Homo sapiens: one gene and its partners. The protein of the gene in region 4 purifies or fractionates together with the protein of the main gene of each other region. This does not show direct contact. Each region holds a gene or a part of one and is shown on either strand. Other genes may lie near its edges. The genes, in order: ABI1, MAN1B1, PPP6R1, SLC30A6, PCDHGB5, NCOA4 and IQGAP3.

Evidence for each region.
Region 1: the proteins of SLC30A6 (region 4) and ABI1 purify together in Homo sapiens (affinity purification with mass spectrometry; one large-scale study listed by BioGRID and IntAct). This does not show direct contact.
Region 2: the proteins of SLC30A6 (region 4) and MAN1B1 purify together in Homo sapiens (affinity purification with mass spectrometry; one large-scale study listed by BioGRID and IntAct). This does not show direct contact.
Region 3: the proteins of SLC30A6 (region 4) and PPP6R1 purify together in Homo sapiens (affinity purification with mass spectrometry; one large-scale study listed by BioGRID and IntAct). This does not show direct contact.
Region 5: the proteins of SLC30A6 (region 4) and PCDHGB5 purify together in Homo sapiens (affinity purification with mass spectrometry; one large-scale study listed by BioGRID and IntAct). This does not show direct contact.
Region 6: the proteins of SLC30A6 (region 4) and NCOA4 purify together in Homo sapiens (affinity purification with mass spectrometry; one large-scale study listed by BioGRID and IntAct). This does not show direct contact.
Region 7: the proteins of SLC30A6 (region 4) and IQGAP3 purify together in Homo sapiens (affinity purification with mass spectrometry; one large-scale study listed by BioGRID and IntAct). This does not show direct contact.

Annotation. Positions count from the first base shown.
Region 1 is NC_000010.11:26,745,864-26,749,807, forward strand, and holds the end of ABI1 (abl interactor 1), read right to left. Parts: intron 2,883-3,944; coding exon 2,707-2,882; 3' UTR 733-2,706; downstream 1-732. Other genes in the region: all trans-polyprenyl-diphosphate synthase PDSS1, read left to right, coding at 470-610. UniProt on the Homo sapiens protein: May act in negative regulation of cell growth and transformation by interacting with nonreceptor tyrosine kinases ABL1 and/or ABL2. May play a role in regulation of EGF-induced Erk pathway activation. Involved in cytoskeletal reorganization and EGFR signaling.
Region 2 is NC_000009.12:137,106,725-137,110,086, reverse strand, and holds the end of MAN1B1 (endoplasmic reticulum mannosyl-oligosaccharide 1,2-alpha-mannosidase), read right to left. Parts: coding exon 3,278-3,362; intron 2,838-3,277; coding exon 2,640-2,837; intron 2,557-2,639; coding exon 2,425-2,556; coding exon of another isoform or gene 2,125-2,424; exon of another isoform or gene 1,709-2,124; intron 1,700-1,708; coding exon 1,496-1,699; 3' UTR 904-1,495; downstream 1-903. UniProt on the Homo sapiens protein: Involved in glycoprotein quality control targeting of misfolded glycoproteins for degradation.
Region 3 is NC_000019.10:55,248,896-55,252,907, forward strand, and holds part of PPP6R1 (serine/threonine-protein phosphatase 6 regulatory subunit 1), read right to left. Parts: intron 3,235-4,012; coding exon of another isoform or gene 3,199-3,234; intron 1-3,198. UniProt on the Homo sapiens protein: Regulatory subunit of protein phosphatase 6 (PP6). May function as a scaffolding PP6 subunit. Involved in the PP6-mediated dephosphorylation of NFKBIE opposing its degradation in response to TNF-alpha.
Region 4 is NC_000002.12:32,203,488-32,207,499, reverse strand, and holds part of SLC30A6 (zinc transporter 6), read right to left. Parts: exon of another isoform or gene 3,282-4,012; intron 2,911-3,281; coding exon 2,808-2,910; intron 615-2,807; coding exon 567-614; intron 1-566. UniProt on the Homo sapiens protein: Has probably no intrinsic transporter activity but together with SLC30A5 forms a functional zinc ion:proton antiporter heterodimer, mediating zinc entry into the lumen of organelles along the secretory pathway.
Region 5 is NC_000005.10:141,495,299-141,499,310, reverse strand, and holds part of PCDHGB5 (protocadherin gamma-B5 isoform 1 precursor), read right to left. Parts: intron 1-4,012. UniProt on the Homo sapiens protein: Potential calcium-dependent cell-adhesion protein. May be involved in the establishment and maintenance of specific neuronal connections in the brain.
Region 6 is NC_000010.11:46,020,257-46,024,268, forward strand, and holds part of NCOA4 (nuclear receptor coactivator 4), read right to left. Parts: intron 3,123-4,012; exon of another isoform or gene 3,074-3,122; intron 1-3,073. UniProt on the Homo sapiens protein: Cargo receptor for the autophagic turnover of the iron-binding ferritin complex, playing a central role in iron homeostasis. Acts as an adapter for delivery of ferritin to lysosomes and autophagic degradation of ferritin, a process named ferritinophagy.
Region 7 is NC_000001.11:156,569,766-156,573,838, forward strand, and holds the start of IQGAP3 (ras GTPase-activating-like protein IQGAP3), read right to left. Parts: upstream 2,801-4,073; 5' UTR 2,765-2,800; coding exon 2,728-2,764; coding exon of another isoform or gene 2,713-2,727; intron 1-2,712.

The DNA of each region.
Region 1 (3,944 bases), on a different chromosome or scaffold from region 4:
AAAAAAAAACTATTGGATAAAGTGAGTGCCTTTGGAAGAAAGGAAGCTGATTTTCATCATAAACCCTCTGTACTTTCATTTTGTTATGTCTTTATTCTTTATTTTTTAAGTAAGTTTTACTTGTGTTTTTTTTACATTTAAAAATGTTGTATAAAGATACTTTGTACATAGAACTTCTGAGAAATTCTAATAAGTAAAAATTAGGGGAAAACGAATGACTATGTAATATTGATGAGCTAGTTGCTTTGCATGCTAATAGAATAAAAATTTGCTTCAATATGAGAAAAAGGCCTAAAGGAAGTTAGCACTATGAGTCGGGAAAAGAACATTAGAGATGTAGTTTGACTGTTAACTGTAATCCTCAGCTCATCTGATCTCAAAACTATGTGTTCATTTATTATAGCAGGAAGTTAAAACGCTGATTCAGTCAGTGACAGGCATCTGTTCTGTTTTGTTCTGTATCTTATAGAGTGATGGTGTGCAACAAACAACCTACCTCGCCCAGCAGTACTGCCATGAAGCAATAAGAGAGATCAGTAAACTTCGACCATCCCCAGAAAGAGATGCCCTCATTCAGCTTTCAGAAATTGTACTCACAAGAGATAAATGACAACTCTTTCTGTTCTTTCTGGCAGCTATCTTACCAGACTGTGCCTAAAGAATTTTGTGGAATACACTTTGTTTGCTTCATGTGCAGATAACCAAAAATCATTTTAAAAGATATCAAACTTATTGATGGGCAATTTATTTTTTTTTATTGCAAAAGTTTTTTCAGAAAACTTTTTAAATGTAATTAATAAACCACCTGAATCTGTCATTCTAGTCCTATAAATTATAATCAAGGTATCTTGATGGTTATATGTGGTATTGTTTACACTGTTAATATCCACATGTAAGGCCATTACACAAATAAATAACCAATGTTAAAATTCAAATGGTTTGTCTTGATTTACCGTAGGAGTAAAGGTCAGAAAAATGTGAAGTCTGCATTGAAGTCCACATGAGTTATATTTTAACAGTATCCAAAATTTCATATAGGAGAATGGTTTATTATAAAAGACTGTACATAAAATTTAGACAACAGGTTATATACAAATTAAGAGAACAATCCACTTGAAAAATGGAAAGTAGAAGGTAGCTAGCTGATCACTAATGATACTTTGTTTGTTTAAAATTAACAAAGGCAAAATGCATATGAAATAGTCACATTGATTTGGTAGCAATAATGGTCTTTAATTTTCAGAAATAACTGTTTTGCACTAGTCTTACCATTCACTATGCTGTTATAAGTCTGTAGCATCCAGTACATAACTGTAATTTGAATTCCAAACAAATCCTCAATAACACAGAAACCCACACTTGAGTGCTCTACTTTAATATCCTAAGCAATAGAGAATTATACACAAGACAAGAAGAGAAAACATCCCTCAGCCCTCCCTTCAATTAAGAGGAGACACACAAAGTGCATGTGTTGCATTTTGATTATGTCAAAAGACAATCCAAGTCTGTTGGTTAGGTAAATCTCTGTTCACTGATTAATACATGACCCACCTTCTTTCCCAATTATTTTATTTTAAAATTCTAATGTTGCTAGTGCCAGGTAATGGATTAAAGAGTGCCTACTCACAAATCAACTGTATCCACTTTTACAATATGTAAAAGGTACTTTTAACTTCCTTTCATTGAACCAGTGTACAACAGTTCACTGTACAACTGAAGGACTGACATGGCAATCCTTAAGAATTTTACCTACAGAATGAATGCACACAATTTGACACATTTTCTTAGTTTCAAAAGATTATTTAAAAAAGGAATTCAGTAGATTGACTTGTAAATAACCATTGCAGATTTTGAATCTGCAAAAATCCGTCACATTGCTGTTGGGACAGATTAAGATAAGGCTAAAATTTTTTTCCAAGTTAACATATTGAGAAAATAGAATCATAATTCTGCAATAAATCATTATCTTTTATTTTTTTTAAAGCAAATCAGTGAAGGAAAGGACAAAAACCTTTGGTTCACTTATGTATTTATGAATGGAAAAAGTTTATAATGCAAATTTCACTCATTAAAAAACTTAGGTACAAATTACAACATTACAGATAATTCTCTTTTTGCTTGTTTCACATGGAGACCTTGGAGACTCAATTCACGTTAAGACACCTAAGTACGAGTCCTCCAGGTAAATATTACACAAATGGGAAGCATCTTGAATTTTTAAGTATATTTCAATACATAAATTTTTATGCATGCTTTAAACAAACAGTATTTTTTTTAAATGAGAGAATCTAACAAAAAAAGTCTGACCAGCACCAGCATTTAAATTTTCTGATTTTAATATTAGTCTGACATAGCGTTAGTAACCATGCTGCACTGAAACATGTAATGGTACAATCTGAATCATGATTCGTTAAATATTATACCCCACTTCCCCCAGAATATTTAGGCTGGTCATAAAGTTAAAAATGTGTAAGTAAGTACATAAGCATAATCAGTTATGGACAGCTTCTTGTATAAATTGCTATTCAGCAATACATAAACTGCCTCAAAGATTTATGCTTACAGGTAGACATTCAATTTACCAATAAAACAGCATGTTCTGAAAATATGGGCACATTTTAAAACATATTAAGACAGTTCTGTTAACCATAATAGTCCCACAGTATGACTGAGTAATAAGAATCTACTTCAAAAGAAAAAAAAAAATTAATCAGTATAGTGCATGATTGATTCAACATAGTTCCCAGGGAACAGACCAGTCACTCGATTGCAGACTCCTTCATACCAGCCATCATCATTCTTCTTTATAACATAAATGATTGCACCCTCCATAAATGACAGCTCATCATCCTTGTCTTTTGTATAATCATATATTGCAACAACTATGGAAAAAACAGTTGAAATATCACATGAGTGCACTATATCCAAAATTTACTTGAATTTTAAGACAAAGACAATTAAATATATAGCACAGCAAAACTATTTTTATGAAGATTTCTTAATTTTTGTATCTATCAATATAAGTAGGTCAGTGGCCAACCATGTACTTAAATCATTGGCTTAATCTTAGAGCCAAATGACAATCTGATTAGACTGAATACATCAATAGGTTCTGTCAATCACTTTAAGAAAGCTCTCTGAATTTTAGAATTTATTAGATGTTTCAATTCATTCAAATACCAAGTGCCTATCATATGCAAAGCACCGGCTTTTCAAAATAATTATCAGGCAAAGAAAGCTGCATAGCCATTCAGTAAACCAGGTAACAATCCAAGCTATCTAATTTGAAAAAACACAGTTACTGGAAGGTAAATCACATCCTACTCATTCAAGGACCCATGCTAATTTAAGGGACTGTCCCCAGATTTTTTTTTAAAGAATATTTACTTACTTTAAAGGATTTTAATTAATACTTAGAGAACTTTGCAATTCTGTGGTGTCTGTAATTTTTTCAGTTCAAGATACAGGTTGAGTAACCCTTATCTGAAATGCCTGGGATCAGAACTGCTTTGGATTTGGGATTTTCAGATTTTGGAATTTTACATATGCGTAATGAGACATCTTGGAGATGGGACCCAAGTCTAAACACAAAACTCATTTTTGTTTCACATACACCTTATACACATAGTCTGAAGGTAATTTTATTTTTCCCTTGGGAACACTGAATAAACTGTGTCATGTGCCTGCATTTTGATTGTGACCCATCACGTGAGGTCAGGTGTGGAATTTTCCACTTGCGGCATCATGTTGGAACTCATTTTGGATTTTGGAGCATTTTGAATTTGGGACTTTCAGATAGGGATGCTTAGCCTATATTCACTTCCTTTGCAAACTGCTATGGAAAGAGAAAGTAATCCAAAATGTATAAAATGGCCCATGGACAAATCCAAACCACGCAATTTTTGTAAATAAAGGTTTATTGCAATATGGCCACATCTACTTAC
Region 2 (3,362 bases), on a different chromosome or scaffold from region 4:
CCATGGGGCACCTGGTCCAGGAGGGCAGCACTGGGCCCACCGTGACAAGGGGCGGGCTAGGGTGGTACTGACAAGGGGCAGGCTAGGGCCGTGCTGGGCCCACCGTGACAAGGGGCAGGCGCCAGGGTCACATGACAGCCGATGTTCTCACCTTTCCAGGCACAGAGGGTGGAGTGCAGGATCAGGGCCCAGCATGAAGTGGGAGACGAAGCCCCAGGGTGCCCACTGTCCCCAGAGGGACACAGGTGGCTGCTGTGGGATGTTGGGGGTTGTGGGGACAGGCAGAGCCGAGGCCCACACTCGGGGCCCGGACGTCCCGAGGGGCGGAGCTGGCAATCCTGGGCTGGGTCCGGGTAGCCCTGCCCTGTGCCGCCACCGGCTCTGGCTTCCCAGGGAAGGGGAGTCTTCCGGAAGTGAAGGTGATGGATTTTTCACAGGGGAGAGCGAGGGGGCGTGGTCCTAAGAGGTCACCTGGTTCAGGGTCGGGGGGAACCCAGCCAAGGCCCAGGGTCAGCCCTGGGATAGGGACAGCAGTAGAGTGATGATGAGGACAACTCTGCCACCACAGCCCAGGGCTCGGGGCCATAGCCATGCCAGGCTGCTGGGAGCTGCCTGACCTGAGGGCCCGTGTATCCCTCAGCTGTGCGCCTCAGTGCCAGCCCTGCAGGGAAACAGGCCCTGTGTGAAACGCAGGCGCAAGGATGCCTCCCGCCAAGCATCTGCCCCGTGGGGCCAGGGACACGGAGCTTCCCCGTGGCCTCTCCCTGCCCACCAGCAGGGGACAGCTAGAGTCCAGTCTCAGCAAACCGAATTCTGAGACGTGACTTGAAGAATACCTTCTCCCCAACGTCCGCCCAGACTTTCCAGTCATGGAGATCCCTAAAGACACAGGCGACATCGCGGTTAGAGCAAATCAACTTTTATCTCCACCGAAAAGACCCATTCCACTGGAGGGGCCCGTGAGCTAGACGGACTTGCCGTCCAGCCCTCCAAGCCCCCTGCGGGGCGGCCAGGAGGATCCCTGAGTCCAGCTTGTAAACACCAGAGCCAGCCCTGGAGCCTCAGGCCTCTGGAGTCACGGCAGCCCCTCCAGACCCTTGGATTGGGGACATCTGAGGCTTCACGAGCCCGGGCAGAGCTGCACCCTGGGCTGTCCACTCGGTCACCCCAGTACCAGGGACCACCTCGAAGCCCCCCTCTGGTCGGCCCACAGAGACCTGCTCAGGCTTCAGCAATCGTGAGTCATGATTCGTGTCTTCTGGAGGAAGCAGGCGGAGGCTCCAGCGGCCCAGCCCACCCCGCATCACACCAAGACTGACGGCCTCACTTGTCCTCACGGTGTCCTGATTAAAGCAGAGACGAGGAGGAGCCCAGAGCCAGTTCAGAGCCTGGGCCACTTGGCGGTTGCCGGTGCTACGTGGGCCCTTGGAAAATGCCACAGACCCAGCAAGGTGCCTCTGCCCACCCGAAGTCCCCACACCAGCAGCCATCCACCCTAGGCAGGGGTCCAGATAGGCAGAGGGTGGGCTTCGGTGTTGAACACGTAGGCATCCAGGCTGAGCAGGTTTGGGTCATCGGAGAAGAGCAAGAACAGATACTTGAGCGTCTCCCCCAGGAAGAAGCTCTCCATCTTGTCCCTAGGCTCGGGCTTCTGAGGATCCTGGACATTGTTGATGGAAGAATAGCCACCCGAGGGGACCTGTGCAGCAGCCAGGGCCTCGTCACCACACGGGGGGCACCCTGCACCCCCCTCAGCCTCATCACCGAAGCGCTCTCCACCCCATGGTGAATGTGGCCCCCAGCGCAAGCTCAGGGTGGAGGGCGCCTGGATGATGGCCACCCCCAGGCGAGCCGTGTGGTTCCACCGGAGCCCACCTGGAAATGCCAACAACCCTCAAGTGACCACGACAGAAACCGCCTCCCCCAGAACCTGGGCTCAGGGGGCCTCACAGTTGCCGCACAGGGCACAGGGCACAGGGCAGACGGTGGGAGCGGAGGCAGCGGGGGCCTCAGGCCAAGATCACAGCAGAGCCAGGAAGTGACACTCTGGCGTGGAGGGCGTGACCTAAAACAGGGCCTGGTCCACAGTGGGGATGGTGCCCCAGTCATGGGTGCGTGTGCCTCCTAAACTGGGGGGATGCTGGGCCCACAGCAGAGACCCTCCCTAGACAGGCCCTGAGAAATGAAAATGAGGGGTGCCCAGCCCCTCCAAGTACTCTGGGTCCCACAACCATGAAGCTCAGTGGGGATGGGGATGCCAGGGCCCCCAAGCTGCAGTGTGGCCACCCCGAGGCTGCGGCAAGCCCGCCCCTCCCGGATCCAGGTCACAGCCACCACCAAGAGCGGAGCCAGCCTGAGCCCCACAGCCCAGCCGTGCCTGTGGCCCGGTGGCCGTGACCACGCGGGGCGAGGACAGGTGCTCACCCGTGTGAATCGGCTGAAGCTCTGCAGAATCTCCCAGCCCCAGTCCTGGTATTTGCGGTCCCCTGTGACGCGGTACAGGTAGAACAGGCTCTCCACGGTCTCTGGCCGCAGCAGGTTGTGCCTGTCTGCTGGCTGTGGGCGGAGCAGAGCTCAGGGCAAGGCCAGCCCTGCCAGCACCCTCCTCCTGATGGACCCTGACCCAGGCCCAGGCCCACCTTGACCTCCACGTCCCGACGGCCCGGCTGGGGGTAAAGGTTGAAGTGCACGATCTCGGGACTCAGCCCCGTCTCCATCTGCCGGTTCATCTGGTAACAAGTCTCCATGAGCTCCTGGGCCAGCTCCATGTGGCTGGCGGGCAGGCCGTGGTAGACGCCCAGAGCCAGCGTCCCTGGCAGGAAGCACACCAGGTGGTCCTGGAATCAGAGGGTCTCTTCAGCCCCAGATCCCAGGCCCTGCCCTCAGCCTGCAGCTGCACGGGCAGCCAACGTGGGAGCCCAGCGCTGCCTCGGCCCTGGTACCCTGGGAGGGGAGGCCACGCGAGGGCACTTGGCATGGAACAGCGGAGCTGCCTGGACCAGGCCCTCCAACCCGGCCCCCACACACCGCCCGAGGACCTGCTACACACCGGGCACGGGGAGGGAGCTGCCCTGGGGAAGCCCTGCCCACCCCAGGTGCCACACAAGGCCTTACTGCCCTGTTGCCAAGACAGGCCTGGCCAGGCAGCCACGGTCCACCCAGGGCCTCCACGTGGGCGCCATGGCCAGGATTTCGTTCTTTTTGACATCATGACTCAGGCACCTTGGAAGCCAAGGTAAAAGGGGCGGCGGCCGGAAGGCCCCGCAGACACACTCACCATCTTGGCACTGAAGCGGCCGTGGGCAAGCTCCCCCACAAAGGTGAGCTTACTGGGCTCGGAGTGCCGCAGCAGGTGCGTTCTG
Region 3 (4,012 bases), on a different chromosome or scaffold from region 4:
GGGCCAGGATCTCCTTGCTCATCCACCCTGACCACCCTAAGGCTGGGCTCAGCACAGAAGGTTGCAGTCCAGACCTTGCTCCCAGTCTGCCCGTCTGCCTCGGTAACTCTAGATTGGCAACAATCTTGATATAACACTATATGGGTCCCTACACCTGGCCAATGACAGTTGAGGGTGGAGCAGAGGGAAGAGTTCCGTGACCAACGACAGTCATGGCGGCAGCAGGAGGACTAGGGGAGATAGCAGCAGCCTCCAGGCATTTGAACCCCTGCTCCTCTGGGGGGCCTGCCAGGTCCCAGTCCACAGCACCCAGTGACTCACCACTTACCCCTCACCAGTCCACTTTTCCCAATAATCCTTTGTTTTTGAGGAGTCTCACTCTGTTGCCCAGGCTGGAATGCAGTGGCACAATCTAGGTTCACCTCAACCTTCACCTCCCGGGTTCAGGCGATTCTTCCGCCTCAACCTCCCTAGTAGCTGGTACTACAAGCATCTGCCACCACACCCGGCTAATTTTTCTATTTTGGTAGAGATGGGATTTCACCACGTTAGCCAGGCTGGCCTTGAACTCCTAACCTCAGGTGATCCGCCCACCTGGGCCTCTCAAAGTGTTGGGATTACAGGCATGAGCCACCATGCCCAGACTCCCAATATTCCTTCTAAGGTTGGGTGTGGTGGCTCACGCCTATAATCCCAGCACTTTGGGAGGCCCAGGCAGGCAGATCACCCGGGGTCAGGAGTTTGACACCAGTCTGGCCAACATGATGAAACCCCGTGTCTACTAAAAATACAAAAATTAGCCGGGCATGGTGGTGTGTGCCTATAGTCCCAGCTACTCGGGAGGCTGAGGCAGGAGAACTGCCTGAACCCGGGAGCGGAGGTTGCAGTGAGTCGAGATTGCGCCACTGCACTCCAGCCTGGGTGGCAGAGCAACACTCTGTCTCGGAAAAAAAAAAAAATCCTTTTAAAGCACAAACATGAGTACCCGCACCTGCTCGGTGATGTGCACTCCACCAAGCCTGCATCCAGGCTCTCGTGCCCCTGCCCAGCCAGCTCACTGACTGACCTCCATGCCCACGGTGACCCCAGTGCCCTGGGGAGGCCGTGCCCCATGCCACCTCGCCAGTGCTCCTGGGGCTGCCACTTCAGGTGTCTCCTGCACAGCCCGTGGCTGCCTGAGGCACAGTGCTGGATGGATATCCAGGAGGCCCTGCGGGTCTGGGTGGATGGGGGCATTCCAGGCAATGATGTCGATGGTATCAGCCACTGCGCTCCAGCACCTGCACTGCGCTGACTACTCTGAAAAGGACTTCACAGCCATCACCTCCACCAACTCTCACAACCACCCTCCAGGGAATGGCCTTATTTTACAGGAGAGGAAACTGAGGCACACCAAAGTAAATGCCTATGCCCCGATCCAGGGGTTGGCGGGCAGTGAAGCTGGCACTCTCAGCTTTCAGAAGTTGTATTTTCAGGGTGCAGAGCCCTTGTCCCAGCACAGGGCCTGTGTAGTGGACACTTAAGGGATGAATGAGCGAGTTCCCGCTGAGCCGGCTCCAGCACTTGCTCTGCCTGAGGGACTAGCCCTGGCCACAGTGACCCCGACTCTCACCTCAGGGAGGAGCCTGCCATTTCCAGGCCCACCCTGAAGGGACCTGTCTGGATGGTAAACTCCCTGTCCACCTTGTCCCCAGCTGCTAGTGCTTACTCAACAGACATCCCTGGATTCAGGATGGAGGGCTGTGGTCCTCAGGACCCTCCCAGCCCAGCTGTGACAGCACAGTTCGGCCAGAGGCCTGAGTTCTCCTCCAACCCAGCACCACCAGAAATCTAGGGACTTATCAGGCCTCCCACCCCGACCCAGGCACCGCTGACCTCCCCAAACATAACCATCCCACCCCTTCTGCCTGCATGACCACCACTTGACGGCAGGCCCCCCACACTCGACCGCAGGCGACCCCTGCTCGTTCCCTCTCCCCACAGCCATGCAGAGCTTGCTGAAGGGAAAATCAGAACCGCCCTCTCATCGGGTCAGCGCCTGGGACCCTCAATGACCTCCCACTCCCTACTTGCCCTGGCCAAGCTGGCCTTCTGTTTTCAGAACACACTAAGCTTGGGTCTACCCCAGCGACTTTGTCCTAATAACTCACTTTCTCATCCTCAGATCTCTTACTAAGCATTCACCTCACAGAAGGGCCTTCCCTGGCCTGCCTGGCTCAAGCAGCCCCCAGCCCCGCCTTTGTCCACCACTGTCTCCCTGTCTCCCTGAGCTGTGCGTTCTGACCTGCCGCCTGGAAGCATCTCTGTGACACAGCAATGAAGCACTGGAGGTACACACTCGTGGCCCTACAATGCTTCCTCTAGAACCTTCCCCCTAGGTTACCATGGGCACCTGAGGGCAGCACCTAGCATGGAACCTGGCCCTGGCAATAAACGCTCACAAGTATTAGCTGAAAAGCAAACCTCATTTTCACAAGGCCCCAGCTCCTCCCAGGCAGGAGGCTGCCGTACCTGTCAGGGCGTTAGACGAAGTGAAATCACTCCCACTCCGGCCCCTCCCAGCCACTCCTACGGGGTCCCTAAATCAGGAGGTGGGGGAAAGTGCAAGATCGCCCTGGGCAGGCAATGGGTGTGTATTTTCCCCTGTGTCAAGAGTGACGAAGGCACCACCACCTCACAAGGAAATACAACTGTTTCCCTTCCTTGCTCCGGGAACCTCTGTGTGCACAGTGGTAACTCCCCACCTCCCCACTTCTGCCCAGATGCTAGACCTCCTCAAGGGACCATCCCCTACTTCCCAGCCCGCTTGACAAGGAATGCGACAGGCCGACCACCAAGTGTCCATGTCACAGATGAGAAAACTCAGGCTCAGCAAAGGTGACTCACCAGCGTGCTGAGGGAAGCGGGAGGGGGAATGGATTTCCTGATCTGGGTGTACCTGGGACCAGAATAATCTCAAGGGGCAACCGCCAAATTTATCATGACTCTGCCAATTTCCGGCCTAAGGCTGTGGCGAGCAAAGCACCGAGACGTGGCAAGCACACACACACAGCCTCTTTCTCCGTGGGAGACCAAGCAGGCTGATAGGCTGCCCATGCCATGCCAGCAAAGCCAGTCCCAAGGAACCACACACTGCAGGCCTCCAACTATGTGAAGCATCCAGAACAGGCAAATCCATAGAGACAGAAAAGAGCTTACAGGCTTCCAGGAGCTGGCGGGGATTGGGCGAAGTTCCTGAAAGGAAAGGGTGATTAAAAAAAAGTTCCAAAATCAATTGTGGTGATGTTTCCACAACGTTGTGAATACACTAAGAACCACTGAATTGTACCCTTTATTTATTATTTTTTTTCTTGAGACAGAGTCTCTCTCTGTCACCCAGCCTGGAGTGCAGTGGCGCGATCTCGGCTCACCGCAACCTCCAGCTCCTGGGTTCAAGCATATCTCCTGCCTCAGCCTCCCGAGTAGTGGGGACTACAGGTGCGCACCACCATTCTTGGCTGATTTTTTTTTTTTTTTTTTTTGAGACAGAGTTTCGCTCTGTCACCCAGGCTGGAGTGCAGCGGCGCGATCTCGGCTCACTGCAATCTCCGCCTCCCGGTTTTAAGCAATTCTCCCACCTCAGCCTGAGTACCTGGGATTACAGGAGTGCGCCACCACACCCAGCTAATTTTTGTGTGTGTTTTTTTAGTAAAGACGGGGTTTCACCATATTGGCCAGGCTGGTCTCGAACTACTGACCTTGTGATCCGCCTGCCTGGGCCTCCCAAAGCACTGGGATTACAGGCATGAATCACCACGCCCGGCCTAATTTTTGCATTTTTTTAGTACAGACGGGGTTTCACCACGTTGGCCAGGCTGGTCTTGAATGCCTGACCTCAAGTGATCTGCCTGCCTCGGCCTCCCAAAGTGCTGGGCTTACAGGCGTGAGCCACTGCGCCTGGCTGTACACTCTAAATGGATGAACTGTACAGAATATCTCAATAAAAACTGTTGGGGGAAAAAAAAAAACCTGC
Region 4 (4,012 bases):
GAGGCTGAGGCAGGAGAATCACTTGAACCTGGGAGACGGAGGTTGCAGTGAGCCAAGACGGCACCATTGCACTCCAGCCTGGGCGACAGAGCAAGACTCTGTCTCAAAAAAAAAAGAAAAAGTTAGCTGGGCATGGTGGCACGCGCCTGTAGTCTCACCTACTCAGGAGGCCGAGGAAGGAGAATTGCTTGAGCCTGGGAGGTGGAGGTTGCAGTGAGCTGAGATTGCGCCACTGCACTACAGCCTGGCAACAGAGCAAGACTGTCTCAAAAAAAAAATAACTAAATAACTAAATAAAATAAATAAAAATCATAGCATTTATAATAGGGTGGTCATTAGGCCATTACCTTCCACATTCACTTCAAGTGAATTTGATTTCCAAATTGAACAATTCCTCATATTTTTCCACGTTTGCCACTATATTATGGCTCCTAGTATGTTATTGTGAAGAACATGAACTTCCCTCAAATAAAATTCTAGGTAGAGTTGAATAAAGTATTAAAAGTATCCACCTTTTCAATTCCCTGATATAAAATAAAATGATTTTATTTACTATTCCATCTTACCTCTCTGATGAGTTTGTCCAACTGACCAATAACATGGGGTGGTGTTGTCTGGGGAAAAATACAATAAAATATGAATAATGGGGGAAGGAAAAAAGTTTGCCAACAATGGTCCTGAACCCCCTCCCCAAAAGGATTTTAAGCCAGCCTTTGCTTTGACAGCTGTCCTATCATGATTTAGAGAAGAGAGGTTTCAACTGGCCCCACTAGTGGAACAACATCATCAACTGGCCCACACCTGTTTTTTTATCTTGAAGATAAGATAAAAAGATAAATAACACTTAAACAACCAACCAACCAACAAAAAATCTTTGGGAAATGGTTACAAAGGTCGTATTTTGTATAGGGCATAGCACTATGCAACTATTATCTTATTTTTATTTTTTCTGGAGATGGAACTACTGCCCTAAGTCTTGGAAAAGGCATAGGGTAAGACAGAAGGAACCACAGTGCTTACACGCACATCCGGCCCTGGGAAACTGCCTTTTTTTTTTTTGGAATCTCGCTCTGTCGCCCAGGCTGGAATGCAGTGGCGCAATCTTGGCTCACTGCAAGCTCCGCCTCCCGGGTTCAAGCCACTCCCCTGCCTCAGCCTCCTGAGTAGCTGGGACTACAGGCACTCGCCACCATGCCCGGCTAATTTTTTGCATTTTTAGTAGAGATGGGGTTTCACCGTGTTAGCCAGGATGGTCTTGATCTCCTGACCTCGTCATCTAACCACCTCGGCCTCCCAAAGTGCTGGGATTACAGGCATGAGCCACCGCGCCCGGCCGGAAACTGCCTTTCTATTCATATTCAGGGTGTTCCTATCATTTCAGTAAGTAGCAATGTGTCATTTAAGATTTTAAGTTTGAAATTTTAAAGTCTCACTGATTCAGTGGCAGGAAATAATAAAATAGTCATAAGCAGATTACACAAAAGCCAAAGCACATTTACTGAGGGAAAATAAATATCTAAAAAAAATTTCAGGCCGGGTGCAGTGGCTCACGCCTGTAATCCCAGCACTTTAGGAGGTTCAAGGCGGGTGGCTCACCTGAGGTCAGGAATTTGAGACCATCCTGGTCAATGTAGTGAAACCCCAGCTCTACTAAAAATACAAAAATTAGCCAGGCGTGGTGGCACATGGCTGTAGTCCCAGCTACTCGGGATGCTGAGGTAGGAGAATCGCTTGAACCCAGGAAGCAAAGGTTGCAGTGACCTGAGTGTAGCGCCACTGCACTCCAGCCTGGTCAAGAGAGAGAGACTCTGTCTCAAAAAAAAAAAAAAAAAAAAAAGAAGTAACATTCTTTTCACTTGAAAAATAATAATAGCTTTAAATTTGTGATTTTGTCACAATATAAATATAGGAAGATTTGTGACTATTTTACTTGCTAATGGACTTTCATCAGGTTCTGACTATATGAATGTCAGAGATTATTGTTTGACTTCATTTCTAGCAGGGGCTTCCAGTAACTAAAAATTTCACAATCTGTACTGTTAAAGGGAGGGCATTAAAAAAAATGTTGTTTTGTTTTTTTGAGATGGAGTCTTGCTCTGTCACCCAGGCTGGATGCAGTGGTACAATGTCAGCTCACTGCAACCTCCGCCTCCCGGGTTCAGGCAATTCTCCTGCCTCAGTCTCCCGAGTAGCTGGGATTACAGGTGCACGCCACCACGCCCAGCTAATTTTTGTATTTTTTTAGTAGAGACAGGGTTTCACCATGTTGGCCAGGCTGGTCTCGAACTACTGACATTGTGATCTGCCCGCCTTGGCCTCCCAAAGTGCTGGGATTACAAGCGTGAGCCACCTCTCCTGGCCAAAAAACTTTTGTAATTAAAAATTATGACTGGGCACGATGGCTCTCGCGTATAGTCCCAACACTTTGGGAGGCCGCAGCAAGAGGATCATTTGAGCCCAGGAGTTTGAGATCAGCCTGGGCAACATAGTGAGAGCCCATCTCTACAAATATTTTTAAAAATTAGCTGGGTGTGGTGGTGTGTGCCTGTAGTTTGTTACTCAGGAGACTGAGGTGGGAGGGTCCTTTGAGCCTGGGAGGTCAAGGCGGCAGTGAGCCGAGATCCCACCACTGTACTCCAGTCTAGGTGACAGAGCAAGGACCTGTCTCTAAAAAAAAAAAAAAAAAAATTAAAATTAAAAAATAAAAATAAAAATTTCACAATCTTGTAGAACAACACATACAACTTTTTAATCTGGTAGAAGAACATGGCTAATATTAAGCACGTGCATTGGAAGAAGCACCTTACCTGGAGTAAGACTTTCCCACTGTACACACTCATGGGATACATAGTGCCAAATGTCATCAAGGCAATAGCTATAGCAGAGGCAGTGTCTACGGCAAAATAATTACTAAAAGGAAAAAACAATTCTAAATTTTAAATTTATATCTCACTGGGCATATTACAATTAAATCTCCTGAACATTAATTATCTAAAGCAACAGGACTGAGCAACAGGACACAATTTTATCACAATTGGCCACTACTTGCAAAGAAACATTTCAAAGAAAAATACTCCAGTTTTTAGAATTCTTTCCTTTCAAAGTTTAGTGGAAAAATAACTAATAATTATGTTAATTAGTAGGAAGAGGTATGATGAAAAAAAATGTGGACATTTCCCCGTCAGGCATTTTTTTGTCAAACTATCTGTCAACTAGAAAGAGCTGAAATATGTTTATTTGCTTGAGACAGACAAAAAACTTCAACTAGTAATTTTTTTTTAAAAAGAGACAATAAAAAGAGGTTTTTTAATTCAAAGGTATAACTGGTAAGTAGATCTGTTTACAATCATTCTTGTGAAATACTTTTTAAAAAAATATGACCAATTTATTTGCAAATAGCAGACACATACCTCAACTATGATGACCTAATTTTTGGTGCATAATATACATGATTAGGCAGAAATAGGCAACCTCATACTGGTAGATTAACTATCAAATAGTCAAAACTCCGTTTGTGGCTCCCACTTCTTGATCGATTTCTATTCCCTCTTCATCTTCTACCATCTTGTCAACTTCCTGAGCGACTCCCTTGTGGACTCTGTCTAACTGACCGGCTGCCAGATCGACCACCTGATCGGCCCGACTGGCCACTTGACCAACCACTCCTCTGTCTGGAATTAGAAGATGTGTTTCTATCATAATATTCTTCAATTTCAGGTAATTTGGCTGGCACTGAGAATATCCAGTCGGAATCATGCCACTCTGCCTGTAACCTTTCTGACTTAGTTGTAGGAACATCAAAGCAAACACGCACATTTCCTTTCAGGAGGCACATTCTGGTAATCTGAGACACTGCATTACTACTCAGCTTTCTGTTAAGTTCTTTCCAAGCACAGCTGACATCCTGTATTTCCTCTAGGCTTTCCAGAGTCATGGTCACAAATCCCTATCAGAGGTGATCAAAGATCGTGGTTCAAAGCCTGATGCACCAGAAATGTGGGCTAAAGCTGCA
Region 5 (4,012 bases), on a different chromosome or scaffold from region 4:
TCTCAGAGGAGGGATGGTAGTGTGGAGCCATCAGAGAACAGTCTAGGGACCAAATGGAGACTCTTTGTGCAGAGGCTGGGGACAGCTGCAGGGCAGGGCCTGGGTTACAGCCTAAGAAGGGGGAAATGGTTTGCTGGGCTCAGAGCTTGAGACAACAGCTATTGGGATCAGACACCCAAAGGATGACCTGAGAAGGGATAGTGGTGGGGAGGAGAAGCATGTGCCAAGCAGGAACTTCAGAATGTAAGTCTTCTTCATTTTTTCTCCCTTTTTCTTTCTTTTCTTCCTTCCTTCCTTCCTTCCTTCCTTCCTTCCTTCCTTCCTTCCTTCCTTCCTTCCCTCCCTCCCTCCCTCTCTCTCTTTTTCTTTCTTTCTTTCCTGATGGAGTCTCGCTCTGTCACCCAGACTGGAGTGCAGTGGTGTGATCTCAGCTCACTGCAACCTCCGCCTCCTGGGTTCAAGCGATTCCCCTGCCTCAGCCTCCTGAGTAGCTGGGACTACAGGTGTGCACCACCACACCTGGCTAATATTTTGTATTTTTACTAGAGATGGGGTTTCATCATGTTGGCCAGGCTGGTCTCAAACTCCTGACCTCAGGTGATCCACCCACCTCAGCCTCCCAAAGTGCTGGGATTACAGGCGTGAGCCACCACACCTGGCCAGGTCTTCTTCCTTCTGTCTAGGCAGTGTGACCCAGTGCTGACTTGAACTTGAACCAAGTTTACTGAAGAACTCAATACTAGCCCTGCTTTGAAGCTGGTGTGTCTGACCAGACCAGGCTGGAGGGCAGTGGGCAAGATGGTGGGGAGGGAGTGAGGCAGGGCATCAACAGAAGGCTGGAACCAGGGTTAGACTGGATAAAAGGAACCTCTCCTCTTCATCCCCTCACTCCAGTGCCAGCAAAGAGAAAACTCCCTGCCATTCCCTTGATCCCAGGAGGCCTCACCACAAGGCTTTTGCATAGGCTTTTCCCATTTGGAATGCTCTTCCTTCTGTGTAGGCAGTGTGACCCAGAGCTGGCTTGATCTTGAACCAAGTTTACTGAAGAACTCAACACCAGCCCTGCTTTGAAGCTGGTATGCCTGACCATCTGGAATGCTCTTCCTTCTTTTCTTTAGCTGGTTAATTTGTATTTGTCTTTCAGATCTCAGCACAACTTCATTTCCAGGATGTCCTCCTGCTCCCTAAATCAAATCCCTATTATACGCCCACACCACCAGATACAATTCTACCTAGCACTTATGACAGTTTCAGTCTCACATTTATTTTTGTAATTATTTGGTCAATATTTGTCTCCTTCAGTGCACTGTAAACTCCTTGAGGGCAGGGGCCTCCCACATCGAGAACACTGCCTGGCCAACAGAAAGTGCTCACTGACCATTTGTTGAATGAATGAAGGAGAGAAGTTGAAGTTACTGGACTAGATCCTAACGCTTATTTCACTTTGGAGCCGCTGAATCAAAAATGTTTGTTGTGGCCGGGGGCGATCACACCTGTAATTCTAGCACTTTGGGAAGCTGAAGCAGGTGGATCAGTTGAGGTCGGGGAGTTTGAAACCAGCCTGGCCAACGTGGCGAAACCCATCTCTACTAAAAATACAAAAATGAGCTGGGTGTGGTGGTGCACACCTGCTGTCCCAGCTACTCGGGAGGCTGAGGCAGGAGAATCGCTTGAACCTGGCAGGCAGAGGTTGCAGTGAGCCAAGATCGCACCACTGCACTCCAGCTTGGGCAACAGAGCAAGACTCTGTCTAAAAAAAAAAAAAAAAAAGGTTTGTTGCATCCTCCACAAGTTAACTAAGGAAGCAGAGAGAGGAGAGAGAGAGAGGTTCCGCACCTTCTCCTCCATATCTCCAAGAGCTCCCACATGTATTCCAGGCCACTAAGCCTCTCATTTGATGGAATGGGAGTTGAGGCAGGGGTAAGGTGCTCACCCCAGAGGACACATGAGAGGCAGTTGGTGGGGCTTCCAGGTTCAATGGTGAATTCTGCTTCAAAGCCAGTGTATGGCCTGGGGTGGTGGTAGGTAGAGGGAACATAAATGGCCTAGAACTTCTCAATGTCACCTCCTCCTAGAAGCCTTCTCTGATCTTCCCCCCCCCATTACACTCACATTGTTCTCTGCCTCTCAGAACTTACTGTGATTTGTGGCTAGATTATTTTTTTTTCGTGATCTCAGCTCACTGCAACCTCTGCCTTCCGGGTTCAAGCAGTTCTGCCTCAGCCTCCTAAGTCGCTGGGATTACAGGTGCCTGCCACCACGCCTGGCTAATTTTTGTATTTTTAATCGAGATGGGGTTTCACCATGTTGGCTGCCAGGCTGGTCTCAAACCCCTGACCTCAAGTGATCTACCCACCTTGGCCTCCCAAAGTGCTGGGATTACAGGCGTGAACCACAGTGCCCAGCCTTTTTTTTTTTTTTTAAGTGTTACTTGTTGCAAATTTTCAGTCTCCTCTGCTGGTCTGGAAGCCTATGAGTTCTGGGATCACATCTACTTGTTCACTCCTATAGCCCAATGTTTAGCACAGGGCCCTGCTCATAGTAGATGCTCGATAAATATTTGTTGAATAAATGAACGAATGAATACATTAATGACTTAATGGATAACTTATGAGAAGGTTGGCAAGGCCAGCAGGGAGAAGGACAACAGCTGGGGTCAAAGGAAGGGCAAGGGCAGCCCAAGCCTTTTGATCTGCTGCTTTTTAGGGGCCTTCTAAGAAGCGCTTTGCGTTCCTAAAATGGGTGACAGGACTGTGCATGCCCAGAAGCTGGAATCTCTGCCATACACCAAGGGCTCCTGGGTCCTTGTGGCAACAAGGGTTTGGTTGGTTGCAGGATGGGGGAAAGATAACTCTTGGAAGCTCAGCATCTGTAGCAACTTGGCAAATGTGGACAGCAAGTACTCAACCATTGAGGAGGTAGGGTAAGGTGGCCCAAGCTCCTGCTTCTCTCCCTGGGCTCTGAGACTCCTCCAGGCTCCTGACTTCTAACTGGGAGGCCTGGCGCAGAGCCTATCCCACTCTGCTCAGACCAACTGAAGGTCTTTCTGCTGAAGTTTCCCTCCCCTTCAGCCCGCAGGGGGTTCCTGTCTCAGCAGGAATTCATACCAGATTGAAATGAGCAGCTGGGGCTGCTTGGATGGGAGGGTGTCTGGTGGAGAGCTGCGATCAAAGGCTCAGTGTGTGAGGGGCAGGGAAGGAAGAGAGCGGGGTGTTGGTGGGTGGTGGGTGGGGGGTTGTGTGTGCTGGCTTGCCCACAAGCACAAAAAAATGAGAGACAGAGACAGAGGCTCAGAGAAAAAAGACAAGATAAAAGAAAAAGAGAGATAAAGAAAGAGTAACAGAGAAAGAGGCAGAAAAAGACAACAGGCACAGAGACCAGAGACAGAGACAAAGAAAGATATACAGAGACAGAGACAAAGAGAGACAAAGAACAGAGAGGAAAGCAGAAATAGTGAGAGACAGAGAAACATAGAGGCTGGGGATAGAAGAACACAAGGCGCTAGGAAACGGTGAAAGGAGAAACAGAAAAGAGGTCCAGGACAAGGACAGGGAGGCAGAGATAGAGAAGGAGAAAGAGACTAAGGGTCCCGTGTAGTTACTCACTCCACATTTATTGAGCACTTATGCCATGGCAGGCACAGTGGGCGGCACAGATCAATGCAAGTAGACAAATGAAAGGGACTGAGGCTGAGGTGCAGCAATCAAGACGGAAGCTAAGACAGAGATGGAGAAGAGAGGGAGAGGCAGAGATTGCAAAGCGAGATAGAGACTGAGGGAAGGACTGAGAGGTAAGAGAAAGTGGCAAAGACGGAAACTCAAGAAAAAGGGGCAGAGACACGGAGACCCCACAGACAGAGAGCAGGACAAGTAGGGGCAGAGGACAGTGGGAGGAGGGGCCGGAGAAGGGGGCCTGCTCCATGCCCCGCCCAGTCCTTCCTCAGTTCCACCTCCAGCTGTGCTGCCTCCACTCTCCCCAGGCTGCAGTCAGCCTCGGCTCTGGAGGCTCTGGA
Region 6 (4,012 bases), on a different chromosome or scaffold from region 4:
AACCTGAGTTATGGCTGTGTCTCCAAGCTTGAGACCCCTGAGCTAGTAACATAATCTCTCTGGGCCTCAACTTCCTCAGGAAAAAGGGAGACAAGGATGGTTGCTACAGAGGGGCTGCAGTAAGGTTAAAGTGAGATATTATATGTCTACCGGCACTTAGCCTAGCACCTGCACACCGTAAGCCCTCCACATTGCAGTGGTTATTGTTATCAGGTTTAGCTGACAGGCTGTGAACAGGACCTGACAGAATCCTTTAGCCATTTATCAGGGCTATGACCTTGCACCATTTGCCCTTGTGGAACCTAACTTCCTAATTCATATGTGAGGAATATAGACTCACAGACTTAGGGGTAAGGAGGTCGTGCTTATTTAATAAATATTAGATTTCCATCTAGTCTTTCACTATACAGCACAGCAAAAGGCAATCTTTTATTTACTCCAAAAACTCAATAGTCTAAATCCTCTAATATATACCAAGTATGGATATTTTTGACTGTTTTCTTACGTGTAGAAAGATTGGACCAAATCAGCTCTGATCCTAATATTCAAATCAATAAAAGATTACTAAAAATGTCTTTTTATCTTCACCATTATAATCCAAAATATTGCCTTGCCATCTTCAAAAGAGGACTGCCTTAAATGTTTATGTTTTGAGACAACATTAAAAGTTTAAGTGCTTTCTAAAACTTCCCTGCCTCTAGTATCCCTGTCCTAAATTTGGGGGTGGAGGAAGTAAAGGAGGAGGAAACACACATACCCTTCAAACGAATAACAAAACCTGGAGTTTCCGCAACAAGGAATTCTTTAAACTATATATGCCATGCTTACACAATGCTTTGCACAAATCTATTTGTGAAGTCTGAAGATCATGGCACCAGAATTGAGCAACTAACCACAAATGAAGTGGTTATGTAATGAAGCTAAGTCATTACTGTATGGCTTAACCATAAAATTTCCAAAGAGCTTTAACTCTTGTGACCCACACAAACTACAATTTAAAGCTGAAAAATAGCTCCTCACAAGCCTCTTTAAAAAAATAAAAAATAAAGCTGGAAAAAATCTTGGTCATCTCTTTAATATAACACTCTCATTCTACATATGAAGCCACAAAAGCCCAGATAGTTTAAGTGACCCATCTGAAGGGCCACAGCCAGAAGGGGTAAGATTTGGGTTTAGAACTACAGTTTCCAAGGTCTAGTCCTGGGTTCTCTCTCCCAGATGAGCTTGTTCTTCCTTTAGTGTATTATCACCTGTAAAGTATTTTTACTTGCCAACACTAGTGATTAAAATTAACATTCCAATGGATTACTATTGAAATAACTTCCGTTAAGATTTTCAGTCAATTTTCATAGTCCTCAGTAAATTATAACCACAATTGTTCAGAATCTTCTGCCTTGGATAACACTAACAAAAATAGTACTGGCCGGGCGCGGTGACTCACGCCTGTAATCCCAGCACTTTGGGAGGCCAAGGTGGGCGGATCACCTGAGGTCAGGAGTTCGAGACCAGCCTGACCAACATGGAGAAACCCTGTCTCTAATAAAAATACAAAATTAGCCGGGCGTGGTGGCGCATGCCTGTAATTCCAGCTAATCGGGAGGCTGAGGCAGGAGAATCGCTTGAACCTGGGAGGCGGAGGTTGCAGTGGGCCAAGGTCGCAGCCATTGCACTCCAGCCTGGGCAACAGGAGCGAAATTCCATCTCAAAATAAATAAATAAATAAATAAACAGTACCCTTGTATGTCATGATAGGCTCAGAAAAACCAAAACACTGCCAAATACCAATGCAAATAGTTTTGATTCAACGTCTGTATCACAGCCACTCCAGGCTTCATTCGTCTGTAAGAATGAAAGCTCAGACTAGATCATCTGTAACCTCACCTTCCAACTCTCACATTCTCTGCCCCCCTTGCCACCTGCCCCTGCCCCTCCAAAGACCTCTACTTTTTACTTATTTGCCTGGCATCCTAGTCATTGCTAAAAGGCCAAGCGCAGCATCTATCCACAGGATACCTATGTGTTCTATGAGTACTACACTCGAAATACTAACTGAACAATTTGGTTATCTTTGATGAGACAACCTGCATTAGACCGTCTGTAAAGCTTTTAGTTTAAAAAAATTATGTTAAAAAATATTTTGCAATTTTACCTTGAGACTTTTTTCACTTCACACGTTCTTTCTTCCGTCTTTTTTTTAAAGGTTGGTTTTGGGTTTTTTTTTTGTTTTGAGACGGAGTCTAGCTCTGCCGCCCAGGCTGGAGTGCAGTGGCGCGATCTCACTGCAAGCTCCACCTCCCGGCTTCATACCATTCTCCTGTCTCAGCCTCCCAGGTAGCTGGGACTGACTACAGGCGCCCGCCGCCACGCCCGGCTAATTTTTTTGTATTTTTAGTAGAGACGGGGTTTCACCGTGTTAGCCAGGATGGTCTCGATCTCCTGACCTCGTGATCCGCCCGCCTCGGCCTCCCAAAGTGCTGGGATTACAAGCGTGAGCCACCGCGCCCGGCCTAAAGGTTGTTTTTTATACAACTCATTAACTCAAGGATTATATACATCTTACCTTAGCCCCAGCCCATTTTAAATTCCTTATCAAGACAAGCAGTTTCTGAAATCCAGAATCTGGTTCTCTGTAATCTTTTTAAAACCACACAAACAAACGTTAATATCGCAACAGATTTAAAATAAGATAATAATAAATTCACTATTGAACATTTTAAGATTTAACACTTCAGAGTTTACTAGGCTCAGATTTGTCCACCTTTATACAAGCAACTGAGGGCAATAAATCCCAGCACATCAATTTTCTAAAGTAGTAACTGAAAACCGACCGCAAGGCATTTCTAATTCGAAAACAAGGCATTTCTAATACGAAAGCAACAGTGACTCATGCGGCTTTCTAGACTTCCCAAAAGCCCTTTCCAAGCGGCCTCAGGAGCCCTTGCCCTCGCCCCGGTCGCCGATTCGCACGCAGTTGTGCAGTCAGCCGCTGCGACCCGGCTCCTGCCCGGCGCCAGCCCTGCAAGGCTACCGGCCTCAAGGGCTCCCGCTACGGCCCCTGGGCTGCCAGACGTACCTCACAGGCCAGGTCACCGACTCACCAGCTGCCCGGCAAGCGACAGGCTGCTTTACCCCTGACCCGAGTGCGAAAGGTCCCCGAGCCCGGGCCTCGTCCCGCCCACGCGTCACACGGCAACTCCAGTTCGCCCGGGCCACTAGCGAGCTGGAGCGCTCAAGCCAAGGGCGGGGAGGAGCGGAAAACTCCGCCCATTGTTGCCCTGCTCCCAGCCAGTCCCCGCTGGCGCTCGCGGCCCCCCTGCAGCTCCCTCCCCGCTGGGCCTCCCTGCTAGACGCCTGCTGCCCCCGCCCGGCCCCCAGGGTAAGGCCAGCTAGAAGGACCTCGGATGGCACCTGGGGCTCCTCTCCAGCCTCTCCTCTCCCCACTTGCTCCACCCGATAATGGGCCCAACTCAATGAGAATTATATATGAACTATAATGAATTACATGAATTAAAATGTTTAGGACAGTGCCTGGCAATATAGCCCTACCTACCTGTGACTATCATGCTTATGGTACTTCTAGCTTTCCCTTTTCTCCAAGATAATCCTCATAGCCTGCATATGCAATCAGGCCAAAAGATGAAATCTAGACAATGTTGTAATTCTATTACCTTTCAGTCGATTTTTTGAATGTAAAATACTTGCTGTTGTCTATGCATATAAAGCTGTTTTTGTTAATATTAAGAGTAAAGCAAAATCACATGAGAAACACCAAAGGGGAACACTAAGGAGCCATTACCCTAAATTAAGTATCCCTTAGATTTCAGATGAACAGAGTGGAAGTGCCTGCTTTGTCTGTGATGCATACAATTTCTGGGACCCCAATCCAGGCATTCATTATCAAAAATAAGAAAATTTCTCCCTAATTCCAAAAGCCCTCCTTGGATAATACATTTCGTAAAGACACAAAAAAAACAGACATACTTCTGAATGACTAAAGTTACAATTTTATGGT
Region 7 (4,073 bases), on a different chromosome or scaffold from region 4:
GCCTTGGCCTCCCAAAGTGCTGGCATTACAGGCTTGAGCCGCCACCATGCCCAGCCGAAACATCTTCTCAACAGACTTGTTTAGGCAACCCTGCTCAGAGACCTGAAACATCTCCCATGTGTCCCTCCTTCTCTTCCCAGGATACCCTTTAATAGGCAGCCTCCTCCTGTGCTGGAGGCATTACTTCTCTTTCCTCTGTAGCCATCTTCCTGTCCTCTTCCTCCTCAAGTCTACTCATGGAACTTCCCTCAGTACCTCCCAGCTGGGACATCCAGAGCCTTCCTTGGCTTGAAACTTAACTCCTTTTCTTATCCCTAATTAGACTGAGTTCTCCAAGAACTGGACCTGTGTCATCCTCGTTGGTTACTCTCTCAGAGGTGAGGTAATAGAACCAACCAGAATTCATCATTCACTCATTCATTCATTCATCAATACCTCCTTTATGCCAGGCACTGGACTAGCAGACCCCTACTCTTAAGAAATGCAGAGATAAAGGCCTGCATGGTGGCTCATGCCTATAATCCCAGTACTTCTGGATGCTGAGGTAGGTGGATCGCTTGAGCCCAGAAGTTTGAGACCAGCCTGGGCAACATGGTGAGACCCTGTCTTGACAAAAAATACACAAATTAGCCTGGTGTGATGGTGCAAACCTGTACTCCCAGCTACTGGGCCTAGACCTGAGCCCAGGAGGTCTAGGCTGCGGTTAGCCATGATCGTGCCACTGCACTCCATCCTGGACAACAGAGATATTGGTGGGTTTGTTTTGTTTTTGAAACAGGGTGTCACTCTGTCACCCAGGCTGGAGTGCAGTAGTGCAGCCTTGACCTCCTGGGCTCAGGTGATCTTCCCACCTCAGCCCCCCCACCACCAAATAGCTGGGACCACAGGTGCGCACCACCATGTCTGGCTAATTCTTGCGTTTTTTGTTGAGACTGGTTCTCACCATGTTGCCCAGGCTGGTCTTGGACTCCTGGGCTCAAGTGATCCTCCCGCCTTGGCCTCCCAAAGTGCTGGGATTACAGGCGTGAACCACAGCGCCCAAAGATTATTATCAGAAGAGAAAAACATCTGAATAAATTAATCTAACATGATAAGTATGATTATAGCCCATGCATAAAATCTATGGGAGCAGCAGAGGAAGCAAAGGATTCTAGCTATGAACTAGATCTTAAGGAATAAATAGGCGGAACACAGGGAAAGGCAGTCCAACAGAGGGAAACATGCCACTCACTTGGGATTAAGTGGAAGGACAAAGAAAATTTTAAAAGATCACAAAGGTATCTTCACTATCCTTTTTGGTATAGGTCACCCGAGGAGGAAAAGAATCTTCAAGCTAAATAAAATACAGAGTACTGATTCCAAAACTCAAGAATAGAGAATCCCTCAAGTGAGACAGCAATCATAATTTGCCTTAGTTACAGTCTCCCTTAATCCTTCTCCCTTCTCTCCCCTCTCTCTATTCTCCTTAGAAACACAATACAAAATCAAACAGAAAGAGTAAGAGAAAGCTACACACACAGTAAGAAAATAAACTCAGAGAGCTTGAAAAAAGGCAGAGCTTAGCCAATCTGTCTTTGACTCAGCACTTAATGTCATTCCCGGTTGTTATCCTATTTCCTTATATTGCATATTCTGCAATGATTCAGGGAAGGGCAGAGCTTATATGAATGAGCAGTTAAGTAAATTAAAACACATGCGTGCACACACACACACACCCCTCCAAATACAGATTTGAAAACACTGGCCAACCACAGGAAAGCCATCAGTTCCTCCAAGGGGGTGTACAAGGAACAAGTGTTGGTTGTTAAGCATGGAAAATAAACCAGTAAGTGAATGACATCATCTCAGAGTTATGAACTGAGGACTGTGGGCGATGGGAGGGATTTTGTACATACACATGCTGTCTCAAAAAAATAAAAAACCGAAAAACAGTTTTCCTGTCCTTCTCAGGTCTGGAACTAGTTTTCCTTTAACAGAAGACTGGACATGGACTTTGCTCTTTGAATCCTAATAGAAAGGAAGGGAGTGGTGGAAGGAGCAGGTTTTCCTTTCATTCAGAAAATCAGATAGAACCTTTCTGCCCCACCCATCCTTCCAGCTCCAGTCTCTCTCTCTAAAACAGTGTCTTTGAAAATGTGGCCCAGGGACTACCTTCCTCACAATCACCTGGGGTGAGGGAAGAAGCACAGCAGTGCTTGTTATAAATGCAGATTATGGGCCCCAAACCAGACCTTCTGGAACTGAAGCTCTGGGACAGGTCCCAGGAATCTGCATCTCAAACAAGCTTCCCGGGTAATTTCACCCCCTGTTTGACAGGCATTGTCTGAAAGCGGCATCTCAAAGCCTAAGAGTCCCCCAGATCCCTTGAGGCGTCTTGTCCGGTGGCATCGCTGGGCAAGTTTGGTAGCCAGCAGTAACTGCTGAATTTCAAGGAGCCATTAGGATCACCTACATTCTCCCGACTCCGGAACCCCAGAACTTGGAAATAGGAAGAAAGTTCTTTGTAAGCTTTAAAGCGCAGCACATTAGTCAGGGGACAATGCGCCGCTCACAGTTCCACTCGGGCCCACGGCGCCCGGGCTGAGGATTCCCGTCCCACTGAGCAGTCCCACCGCCCTCGCCCCTCAGGCTTCACGCCCGACACACGCCCCAATCTCTCCCGGGACAGCCAAGCCCCCGACCAGCGGCACCACTGCGAGACCCTTCTCTGACCCTCTCCGCACTCACAGGCTGCCCAGCCTGGGCCCGCTGCTCTCCTCTCCATGTTCCTCCTTCTTCCAGGTTTGAATCTCCCGCCGTTGGGCCACCGCCCCTCACCGTCGGCACCGCCAGACAGGACACTTCCCGTCCACACCGCTGAGAATCCTGGGATTTGTAGTTCCCGGCCGCGGAGCCGGGCCGCCCAGGTGCTGGGAGAAGAGGCGCCCCAGGCCGGGGCAGTACCGCTCCCCTTACAGCAGTTCCTCGTCTTGTTCCTTCCAGGCTCCTTTTCTGCTTAACAGTCTTATTCTAGCTGCTGCCCCTGCCATTGCCTCTGTCATCTCCACCTAGTATTCCCATTAACCCCTACTCTGCTTCCTATGTGTTCCCGAGTCCGGCTAACTTGTGGGCCTACTTGGCGCTATGCACTAAGCTAGGTGATGCGAATGCAGAGATGTATGAGGGCAGTGAATGCTCTAAAAGAGTTTGCTGTTCTGGCACAAGTGATAGACATATAGTCAAATAAATTAGAGGTCGGTGATGCACAGAGGGAGGGGGTCATTGCTGTGAATAAGAGCAGCGAATGACAGGGAAGACGTCCTGGTGGAAGTGACAGCTGATTTGGGTTGAGAAGTGAAAGAGAATTCATCAGATTGAAGAAGAGAGGCAGTGCAGTCAGTGGAGACAGCATGTGCAAGAACGAGGAGGTGAGTTCGGGAACTTAAACTTGGTTCAGTTTTAGAGGAGAACAAAGCTCAGCCAGGGAGAGGCCAGAAGGGATCCTGGAGGCACAGGGCCAGGTCCAGTAGCACCTTGGGCACCATGCTAGGGCCCTGGCATGGGGTCTGGTGAGCAGTCACCAGCCAAGGAACACTTTAGACATAGGTCAGAGCCAGATTTGTCCTTTAAAAAGAGCCATCTTATAGCAGGGGATTGGAAGGGGGTGAGGCTAGGGGCAGAGACCAGTTGGAAGGCTACTGCAGTAGCACAGAAGAGAGATAATAAGAGCCTGAACTAGGCCAGGCACGGTGGTTCACACCTGTAATCCCAGCACTTTGGGAGGCGGAGGCGGGCAGATTAACTGAGGTCAGGAGTTCAAGACCAGACAGGCCAACATGGTGAAACCCCATCTCTAGTAAAAATACAAATATTAGCCAGGCGTGGTGGGGTATGCCTGTAATCCCAGGTACTCCGGAGGCTGAGGCAGGAGAATCGCTTGAACCCAGGAGGCAGAGGTTGCAGTGAGCTGAGACTGTGCCACTGCACTCCAGCCTGGGCGACAGAGTGAGACGCCGTCTCAAAAAAAAAAAAAAAAAAAAAAAAAAGAGCCTGAACTAATAAAAAATAATTATGACACCAACAACTATGCTGAA